Regions from separate parts of the Homo sapiens genome. Here region 2 is reported to be linked to region 1. Evidence: microRNA targets listed by miRTarBase, many of them from high-throughput screens and not tested one by one. Region 1 holds a microRNA gene; the other region holds the end of a gene's coding sequence.

Evidence for each region. The annotated mature microRNA hsa-miR-1909-3p reads CGCAGGGGCCGGGUGCUCACCG and lies in region 1 at 2,018-2,039, shown strand. An mRNA with a match to its seed (bases 2 to 7 or 8) in the 3' UTR can be bound and repressed. Matches are read on the target gene's strand: a 7mer-m8 pairs with bases 2 to 8, a 7mer-A1 pairs with bases 2 to 7 and ends in A, and an 8mer does both.
Region 2: miRTarBase lists PHF21A as a target of hsa-miR-1909-3p. Seed matches in the 3' UTR shown: 8mer at 1,355-1,362, 7mer-m8 at 3,959-3,965, 7mer-m8 at 4,014-4,020 and 7mer-A1 at 4,301-4,307.

What each region holds. Positions count from the first base shown.
Region 1 is chr19:1,813,034-1,818,207 of GRCh38, reverse strand. MIR1909 (microRNA 1909) reads left to right here and starts at 1,970; the gene lies at 1,970-2,049. It overlaps REXO1 (RNA exonuclease 1 homolog), which reads left to right. Exons shown (of 16, transcript NM_020695.4): 11 at 428-501; 12 at 879-989; 13 at 1,395-1,510; 14 at 1,639-1,777; 15 at 1,863-1,983; 16 at 2,054-2,960. The coding sequence ends at 2,142. RefSeq lists an enhancer at 5,139-5,174.
Region 2 is chr11:45,929,668-45,934,667 of GRCh38, reverse strand. PHF21A (PHD finger protein 21A) reads left to right here. Exons shown (of 19, transcript NM_001352027.3): 19 at 443-5,000. The coding sequence ends at 700. Among named protein-coding and RNA genes, the nearest start is that of LARGE2, 9.5 kb to the right of the region's middle. RefSeq lists enhancers at 4,081-4,170, 4,521-4,710.

The sequences.
Region 1 (5,174 bases):
TGGTCCATGGAAATGTGGAGGTTGCTGGCCCCAGGAGCGGAGGGGCTTGTCCCACCCTTGGCCTGGTGGTTCTATTCAATCCCCCAGGCAACCACGCAGCCACGCTCAGGGCACATGGCCAGCCTTGCACAGCCCTGTGGCGGCCCCTAAAGCCATCGCCTCAGGGATACCTGGAGGGTGCTGCCCGGGGCAGCGCTGCCAAGAGGCCTCTGCAGAGGGCACTGGTCTCCCTGGATCCAGGCCTGGGCGTCCTGGCTGCCACACGACTGCCGGGGCCTGGTCTGCTTCCAGCTCCACCAAGAGGCTGAGGCCTCCTGTCCTCAGTCCTCACTCCCTAGTAGGGCTCGGTAGATGCAGGTGGTCAGTGCCCCGGGGGCTGTGGAGTGGGCCTGGCCGGGCCCTGACTGTGTGTCTGTGTCCCCTGCAGTGGCCGGAGGCTGGGAGACCCAGTACATGTGCTGCTCGGCTGCCGCCGGCTCTGTCGGCTGCCAAGTCGCAAAGGTGAGCCCTGGCGTCCCAGTCCCCTCTGCCTGTTCTCAACAGACTTCTGCCTCCCCATCGTTGGTGTGGGGTCTCGGGACACAGCACAGTCCTGGGCTCAGGGTCTGGGCCCCCGGGCAGCCTTTCTTGTGTTACCCAGAGAACGTAGCACCCGTAGGCCCCAGGCCCTGTCCCTGGCCACTTCCCATCCTGGGAAGCCGTCCTCCCTGTGTCTTCTTGGCAAGCCCCCTTCCCCACCTGCTCACCAGGGTCCCAACCAGTGAATGGGCGTGATGGATGGATAGGATGGTCCCGAAGGGCTCAGAGATGTGCTGCTGCTGCCACCCCCGCCCCCACTGCACCCCGAAGCTGCCCTCACCTGCCTTCTCCACCCCCAGCAACACGTGCAGGATGGCCGGAAGGAGCGCCTTGAGGGCTTCGTGAAGACCTTTGAGAAAGAGCTCTCAGGAGACACCCACCCGGGGATCTACGCCCTGGACTGCGAGATGGTGAGGCTGTTCTCTGCCCAGCGTCGGGTTCAGGATTGGGGAGGACCTGGCCTGGTGCGGCCGCCCCATCTGGCCCCATCTGGGCCTGGCTCACCGGCCAGCGCTCAGGGTTTCTCTCGCAGCACCGGTGCCTGTGGCTCCTGCCCTGGACCAACACCCCATACTTCCCAGCAGAGCCAAGCACACCGGGCACTGGGCCCCGGCTCTGCCTCTGAATGGGAGGCAGGAGGGCTTTGCGAAAGGGGGTTACTGAGGTCACACCCCACTCGGCCTCTCCTAGAAGTCCCACAGAGTCTCTGGTCACTGCCTCTGCCTGGAGGGGCTCTGGAGACTCAAAGGGGCAGGGAAGGGGAGGGAGGGAGGCCGGTGCCTGGGACACATCTGAGGTGCATCCCTTGCCCGCAGTCCTACACCACATATGGCCTGGAGCTGACGCGCGTCACGGTGGTCGACACGGACGTGCACGTGGTTTATGACACCTTCGTGAAGCCTGACAACGAGATCGTGGACTACAACACCAGGTGTGGCCAGTGCCCTCCACGAGCTGGGAGCCCTCCCAGCCGCCTCTCCCCAGGGACCCACCCTCCCCCGCCCCACCAGCCAGTGCTTCCAGGCTGAGCCCTGGTGCCCCTCCTGCCCGTTCCCCCAGGTTTTCGGGGGTGACGGAGGCTGACCTTGCCGACACAAGTGTCACGCTGCGTGACGTCCAGGCCGTTCTGCTGAGCATGTTCAGCGCTGACACCATCCTCATCGGACACAGCCTGGAGAGCGACCTCCTGGCCCTGAAGGTGCCCTGCCGGCCCGGGTCCCGCGCGGTTCTCCAGCAGGACCTGCGCAGGCCCCACGTGCGCTGATCTCTGCCGCTGCCCACAGGTCATCCACAGCACCGTGGTGGACACGTCTGTGCTCTTCCCCCACCGCCTGGGCCTCCCCTACAAGCGGTCCCTGCGGAACCTCATGGCCGACTACCTCAGACAGATCATCCAGGACAATGGTGAGTGCCGGTGCCTGCCCTGGGGCCGTCCCTGCGCAGGGGCCGGGTGCTCACCGCATCTGCCCCGCAGTGGATGGGCACAGCTCCAGCGAGGACGCCGGCGCCTGCATGCACCTGGTGATCTGGAAGGTTCGAGAAGACGCCAAGACCAAGCGATGACGCCTGCCCGCCTCCCACCCGCCTCTCCTGCCGTCCCGCTGGTCCTTAGCCCCATGCCTCTTCCAAAACAGTGCAATAAATCTCCGGTAACCCGTCCACCTGGCCGAGGCAGCCCAGAGCAGCGGGATGAGCTGGCGGCCAGAGAACGCCCAGCCCAGCCCACCCCCGCTCACGTCCTGCCGCACCCCTCCGCCGGTCCCCACCCTCTGCCCCCCAGCCCTCTGGCGTCTCTAGAAACTGCTGCTGATGGAGACCAGGACAGAGCCCGCCCCCACCCGGCCCGCAGCCCCTCCTGCCCCTCCTGCCAGGCCCTCCCTCCCGGGTGGTGGCCGGCACCTCTGCTCCTCACGTGGGTCGCGGGGCGGGCTTGTCCCAGGTTTGTTTGAGACAGTCTTTTTTTATTTTGTATTGTTATTTTTATTATTTTTAATTTAAACCTGATGACTTGCACAGCATCTTTCCCACCGGGAAGAGCGGGCCTGCTGCCTTCCCTCCTGCGGGGTGGGGGTGGGACAGACCCCAGTGGGGGCCAGGGCCACACTCAGCGCAGTGTGGGCTGGACCCGCCTCTGTGCTCCAGGGGCTGGCCGGTCTTCGGGGGCGCCGGCTTCCACCACTCGCCGCCCCACCCCTGCACTCCGTGACCTCTGAGAACCCAGCTGGCCCCTCGTTAGCCCCAGGGTCTGCCGTCTAGAGGGAGCCCACCGGCCTCCGGACACTGTCTTCCCGCTAGAGCCCCGTCCTCCTCTGCGGGGCTCTCCGGACCCCCTTCCCCCTCACCTCCAGGCAGGGACAGAATAAATGTTTGTATGGATTTTAGATTTTGTGGTGGTCTTGGTCTTGGTGCCTGGTGAGGCCTCTGCATGTGCCCCGGGGAGGCCACTGTCCCTGCAGCCGGGACTGATTCTCTTCCCATCAACGCAGAGAAAACAGAGCAGTGAAACTTTCCCTCACAAAAGCTGGCCCAGGGCTGGCTCCCCCAGGGCTGGGCCACACCTGCTGTGGGGTCCCAGTTCCAGCCCCAGATCATGGGCCACCATCCTGCAGCTTCTAGTGCCTCTCGGACAGTGGGTGGTGTCCCCAGCCCTGTGTGGAGCTGGGCCCTGTGCACAGAGCTGGCTTCCCTCTCTGCCCTGCCCAGAGATAGGGACTGCACACAGATGGTGAGAGGGGGTTAAAGAGACTGGGAGCTGCTGTGTGTTGCCCGTCAAAGGATGGAGTGCAGACACGGAAAGCTGCTCCGGCCCTTGCCAGGAAACGCCACACATTGTGTAGTGCACGCACGTCTCGGGCAACTGTGGTTGCATCGGGACCCCATTTGGAAATGGGAGGCCCAGGGGTGTTTAGGCCCCACTTTTTATTGACCTCAAGTAGAAAAAGTGATGAGCCTTGCGGGACAGGACCCAGCAGCTGGGGGCAGGTTGCCTGGAGTGGGTTTCCTGCCACCCTGGTCTTGGGCTTCTGCTGAAGGGCAAGGCCAAGGGCACAGGTCCCGGGATGAGGACGTGGGGGCCCTCCCCAGAGGACTCCATCCCAAGGCTCCCTTCCCGGTTCTGGGCTCTGCATCTCTCCAGGGCCCTCCTGGGGGACCGTGGTTAGGCCAGGCCCTTCCACCCTCGAGGGCTGTTCTTGTGACTAGTGACTCTCCCACCTCTTCTGTAAAGGAGTTGTTTTCTTTTTCTTCTTTATTTTTGAGACACAGTCTCGCTTTGTCACCCAGTCTCAGCTGGCTGCAACCTCTGTCTGCCGAGTAGCTGGGATTATGGCTGTGCCATCACACCTGGCTAATTTCGTATTTTTAGTAGAGATGGGGTTTCACCACGTTGGCCAAGCTGGTCTCGAACTCCTGACCTCAAGTGATCCACCTGCCTCGGCCTCCCAAAGCGTTGGGATTACAGGCATGAGCCACTGTGCCCGGCTCTGTGTTCTAAATAAATGGCGCAGGCGTGTATGCGCTCTGTTTCTGTGCATTCCCATGTGATGTCTGCCTCCCCCTTCCCAGAACGCACCTGGTGCCTCAGGACATAGCCCACGGGGGGTCCCAAGGCTGGCCAGCCCTGGCTTCAGCCCCCAGGGACTCCCTTCAGCTTGTGAAGCCACCTGTTGCCACTGGAGGCTTCAGGGCCTTTGCACAAGTGCCCTGGGCAAGCTCCTGCCCCCAGATAGTGCCCCCTGCGAAGGCTGGGGTGGGGGAATCTGGTCCTCACAGCTGCACCCAACCAGGTCTCTTCTAAAGTTTATTAGAACAGTGTGTTCAAACTCCCAGCCCCGGCTTTTTTTCGTAACCACTGAGCAAGCAAGCAAGCACAGGGGAAGTGTTGAAGGAATGAAAGGAGAGAAGTCAAACACAGTGGCCTGCCTGCCTGCTTGTGGTCCCAGCTACTCTGGAGGCTGAGGCAGGAGGATCGCTTGAGCCCAGGAGGTGGAGGCTGCAGTGAGCTCTGATCGCACCACTGCACTCCAGCCCGGGTGACACAGTGAGACTCTGTCTCCAAAAAAAGAGAGGTTCCCTGGCAGCCTCCAGGGCCAAGCAGGCTTCCAATTTGGGCTTCCAAAGAAAGAGGGTTTGTGATCACCGAGAGCCCTCAGGTGGTTGCCGCTTTGATGGGGGAGGTGGCTTCCCTATCCCCCTCCACCCATGTTTGCCTCTCCCTTTGGGCCCTCACCCCAGGTAGCCTCACTCTTGGGGGCATTTCATCTTCAGCAGCCCCTCCGCACACACTTTCTGACCCTGGCTCCAGGCCCTATCGCTGGCCTGGACCCGCCCTAGCCTCGTCGCTGAACTCACCCCTGCCACTTCTTCAGTAAGGATCCCTGAGCCCCTGCCACCTGCTGGAAAGAACCCTGCGGGCTTCCTCTTGGCCTTAGGGTGGTCTCAATGGCTATAACCGCCTCTCCCCAGCCTGGTGCTCAGCCCTGCATCTGCGCCTAGGAGGCGCTCGTTGAACGTGTATGGGATGAATGAACGAACCCAGGACACGGATCAGACATGACTTACATAACCGCCGTTACCTGTGGTCCTTCCTCCTGCAC
Region 2 (5,000 bases), not on the chromosome of region 1:
TTTTCCACCCTGGAGAGCTCAGTCCAGTCCTGAAGGCTCCCCAGTTAGCATGACAGAAGCATATCAAAACCTGCCTAAACAGGCTGCAGGACAGCTGTGGGAACTTTTTTTTTTTTTTTAAACAACCTTTGTTTGGAAGTCTGATGGCGGCTCTGCCGGTTTGTTTTTAAGCGTTAGTACTCCTGTGTGTTGGTGCCCGCATGCTCTTTCTCCCTCTGTTGCCTCTGGGACCTGGGACCCCCCAGCCTACCCACTCCACCCGCCCTGTTCCTTAGGTGGTAGCCGCCCACTCCACTGAGGAACACAGCAAGGCCCAGGGGCTGCACAGCAGCCAGCAGAGCTTCTTCTCCCTGGGCAGAGAGAAGGCGCTCTGCTCTTAGGGGCTGCCAGGCCTGTTAGAAACCAGGCGGCTCAGTGCCACTGCCCTTGTCATTTGCTGCAGAAATGCATGGAAATGAAGAACACCATCCTGGCCCGGCAGAAGGAGATGCACAGCTCCCTGGAGAAGGTAAAACAGCTGATTCGCCTCATCCACGGCATCGACCTCTCCAAACCTGTAGACTCTGAGGCCACTGTGGGGGCCATCTCCAATGGCCCGGACTGCACCCCCCCTGCCAATGCCGCCACCTCCACGCCGGCCCCTTCCCCCTCCTCCCAGAGCTGCACAGCGAACTGTAACCAGGGGGAAGAGACTAAATAACAGAGCCCCTCTAGGAGAAGCCACGGGATCCCGGCGGCAAGGAGAACAGAACACTGAAGACTCTAGAAAAGCAAAGCCGGATTTCTGGAAAGTGCAGAATTCTTTTGGTTCTTTGGTTCCAGAGAGAGAGAAGATGCTTGTGCCAGGTGGCACCAGAGTTTGCCAATTGATCCTTCTTATTCTGTGTGTACATGCAAAGATTGGACCATGTTACATGAAATAGTGCCAGCTGGAGGTTCTTTGCCAGCACCATGCCAAGTGAAATAATATATTTACTCTCTCTATTATACACCAGTGTGTGCCTGCAGCAGCCTCCACAGCCACGATGGGTTTGTTTCTGTTTTCTTGGGTGGGGAGCAGGGACGGGCGGAGGGAGGAGAGCAGGTTTCAGATCCTTACTTGCCGAGCCGTTTGTTTAGGTAGAGAAGACAAGTCCAAAGAGTGTGTGGGCTTTCCTGTTTCTAAACTTTCGCTACTATAAAACCAAAAAAAGGAATTGAGATTTCACCAACCCCAGTGCCCAGAAGAGGGAAGGGGAGTGGCTGGAGGGAGCAGGGGGTGGGACAGTGTATCAAATAAGCAGTATTTAATCACCTCTGGCGGGGGCCTCGTGCAAGGGGAGACTGACACCAAGAACAGCCAGTAGGTTCTTCTCCCCTGCACTCTGCTCCCTGCGCGGTAACCCCACCACTCCTGAAGCCTGCCCAGTCTCCTTCCTTCCCTGCTTGGTGAGTCGCGCATCTCCGTGGTTATCCCGCTGTCTCCTCTCCAAGAACAAGCAGAGCCCGGGCCACTGGCCCTTGCCCAAGGCAGGGAAGAAGGATGTGTGTGTCCAGGAAGGAAAAAAAGGTGGATCAGTGATTTTACTTGAAAACAAGCTCCATCCCTTTTCTATATTTATAAGAAGAGAAGATCTTGAGTGAAGCAGCACGCGACCCAGGTGTGTGTGAATTGAATGGAGACGTTTCTTTTCTCTTTCTTTAATTTTTGTTTTTGTTCTTTTTTTCTTTAAGGAAAGTTTTATTTTACTGTTCATTTTACTTTCTTGGTAACAAAAACTAAAATAAGGAATAGAAAAGCTGTTTTTCAGGCTGACAGTCCAATTAAGGGTAGCCAAGACCTTGCATGGTAGAGTAGGAATCATAGTGTCAGTGAGGTCCCGTGAGTCTTTGTGAGTCCTTGTGTCATCGTTCGGGCACTGTTTTTTTATGCAAGGGCAAAAATCTTTGTATCTGGGGAAAAAAAACTTTTTTTTAAATTAAAAAGGAAAATAAAAGATATTGAGGTCTTCCTAGTGTTACTTAAATTAAGATCAAGGTAAGAAACATTGTAAAAAAAAATTACAAAAGTGCTATTTGTTTCCTAAAAACAGTGATTTCTATTAAAAAGGTGTCAGAACTGGAGAAAATGCCGTGTAGTTATAATTTTTTAGCACAGACCCTGCTGATCACGATGACATTTTGCCGTGTGTGTGTCTCTAGACTGGTGGGCCAGTCTCCTTGAAGGACAGAGGCGGAGCTCCCCACCCTTCTCTCTCCTCAGAAAAGACCGTGCTCTCTTCTTGGTGCAGGGATCTTGTCTCCTGTTGTGAAGCCCAAATGGAAGCGTGGATGGTATCAGGGCCCTACCCGTGGTCTTCTCAGATTCTGCTAGAGCAAAAGGCTGGTGCCTAAATAAGATCCCTTCCTTTGGTGCTGCTTTTGGTCTTTCAGCCACCAGCATTATGAGTGCCTGGGGGACACCTCCGAGGGAACTGGCCAGCGGAGCTCTGTGGTGCGCACGCACCCTGGCCGTGACAGGAGGGTGCGGGAGTACAGGCTGGCTGCATCAGCCCTTGGTGCTTAGAACAGAGGAGGAGTGACATGTTTTGAGGGTACGTCTCTGAGACAGAGCCCCAGCGTGGCCTTCGCTCTGTCTTGCCTTTGGGGAGAGGTCTGAAGCTCCCACTCCTTTCTCTGCCTGTTGGCTCCAGGCACCAGAAATTTACTCCACTCCACCCACCCACAAGCCTCCTGGGTGACCCTGGGCTAGAATTGCTGCGCTTGCCTCGGCTTGGCCGGTTGTGGCCTCTCCTTGAGAAAACCAGGGTTGTGAAAGACTCAGACCATTCTCTCATCTTGCCTTGTCAGAAGTAAATTGTGTCAGATTTGTGCTCTCGCTGGAGACCTTTGCCCCTTGCGTGCCCCTGGCCGATGGGAGGGCGGTGGAGGCTCTGTACCCTGGCCCTGCTGGAGCATCTCCCCCAAGCCCACTCCAGGCCCTGGGAATGGCCAGAGTCTAGGAGAGGTAGAAACGATCCTATCAGCTTCTCTCCCACCCAATTAGGCCCAGAGAGACAAAGACAGATCTGAAAGCAAATGCAACAGAGAAGAGACACTTCTTAGAGTAAAATGTGTCTCATCTCTATCAGCCATCGCCTTTCATCTTCCCAGGGGCCTCAGAAGAAGGAATTAAGTTAGGCTGAACAGGCCTCAGAGTTAGGCCCTGGCTGCTTGATTGGCTGAGGGGGAAAGAGTTCCCTTTTCTCATTCAGAAACCAAGGTGCTGTGTCTAGTCAGGGAGCCTTGGAGATGCCTGGACTAGTTGGAGGAATCGTTGGCAGAGGATCAGAGACCAGCAGCAGGCTGTCTGCCCTGTCTAGAGCTCTTCCCCTCAACTTGTCTGGGCCCATCTGGGGGTTGCCACACAACACCTAACTTACCTTTTCCTGAAAGAAGTTGGGAAACCATCATCACTAGAGGCCTTTGCTCAGAGAGGAGCTGCCTTAGGAGTCTTGGGTCGGAGGACGGGGCTAGGAATTGACCAGGGCTTTGCCTGCCGCCCTCAGCAGTGTCGGGTACATTCTGACCTCGCCTGCAGCTGGGCTGTGGATTCTTCCTGACATTCAGATGTGAGCTGTTTTGGGAGTCAGCTAGTATGGAGTACGAGATGCAACCCAGCCCCCAAACCTACATTCTGCACTCAAATTCCAAAACACTGCTTTACTGTAAAGAAGAGGCCCCTGGCACCCAATCTCCCTGTCCTTCACTGTCCCCTCAGACCTGGGCGGGGAGGGGGGGGGGCCTGTGACCACCTGAGACATACGCTCGTGACACTGCCCCACCCCAGCCACCTCCACTTGCTTCCTCCTCCTTCCCTCCGCTGCTCTTTCCCCACGGCCCAGAATTTAGCTGCTCTGACAGCCACTTTTGAGACCAGCTGGCTTTGTAGTCACTTCAGAGAGCTGGAGCGGCTGCCCACTGGGCCCTGACTGGGAGTCCCCTGCCAGCTCCTGATCAGGCGCTGCGCCCTGGTGGCAGTGATGACTGGGAGTCCCCTGCCAGCTCCTGTCCAGGCGCTGCATCCTGGTAACAGTGAGGCCATGTTGCTGTCATCTCCACCTCTGCATTCTTGCTGCCTGTGGGTCCTTTTTCTTTCATGGAGCCTGCTGGGTCTTGTCTCACCTGTGCTGAGCTCCTCTGGGGTTTTGATTTCTTCCTTCCTTATCAGGCCCTTTGGGGTAAGCCTGCTGGTTGTACCTGACATAGGGAGGCAGTTAGGGGCAGTCCCTGGTGGGGCCGCCCTGGCAGCCTCCAGCTGGCACCATCGTGTGCCTGGTTTCCCTGCAACACCTGCCTCTCTGTCCCTGCTGCTGCTTGGCTCAGGCCCAACAGGCAGCGTGCATGGAGGTGGTTACACACAGCTGTTTCCGTGAGGGTGACCGTGTCTGCAGCACGCTTCCGTCTCCGCATGCACGGCTGCCTCTCCAGCCACCTCTGATACTTCTCTCTTGGGGCCATCAGAGCCTCCCTTGGGCTGTCACCTCCCAGCTCACACACACTCTTCAGTGGTTTCCTCTCTTCATTCTCTTATAGGGCGTGGTCCTTCTTATTTATCTAAAGGGCTGAATTTAGGAGACTTTTTACCCAGGGGCAAAAGGCTCTTAGGGTAATGAGATGGATGGTGGCCCAGGTGCATTTTCCAGGGCCTGGGTTCTCCAGATCCCGTGGCTTCTGTTGAGTGGAGGCAACTTTGCTCTGTGTGAACCTCGCCCCTGTCCCTCTGCCGGGCACCCCTGGCAGGAAGCAGGACTCCCATCCTCACCCTGACTTAGACTGTCCTCTGAGTCAGCTCCTCTCCAAGACAGGAGTGGGCAGCCCTGGGCAGTCTTCTGGCCCCTTGCTAAAGTGAGGGGCAGGAAGCTGGGGCTGCCCTCCAGAAAGCCGGGGTAGGAACTCTGAAAAATACCTCCTCTAAACGGAAGCAGGGCTCTCCAGTTCCACTTGGCGCCCCCTCCCACAAGGCCCTTCCTCCCTGAGGA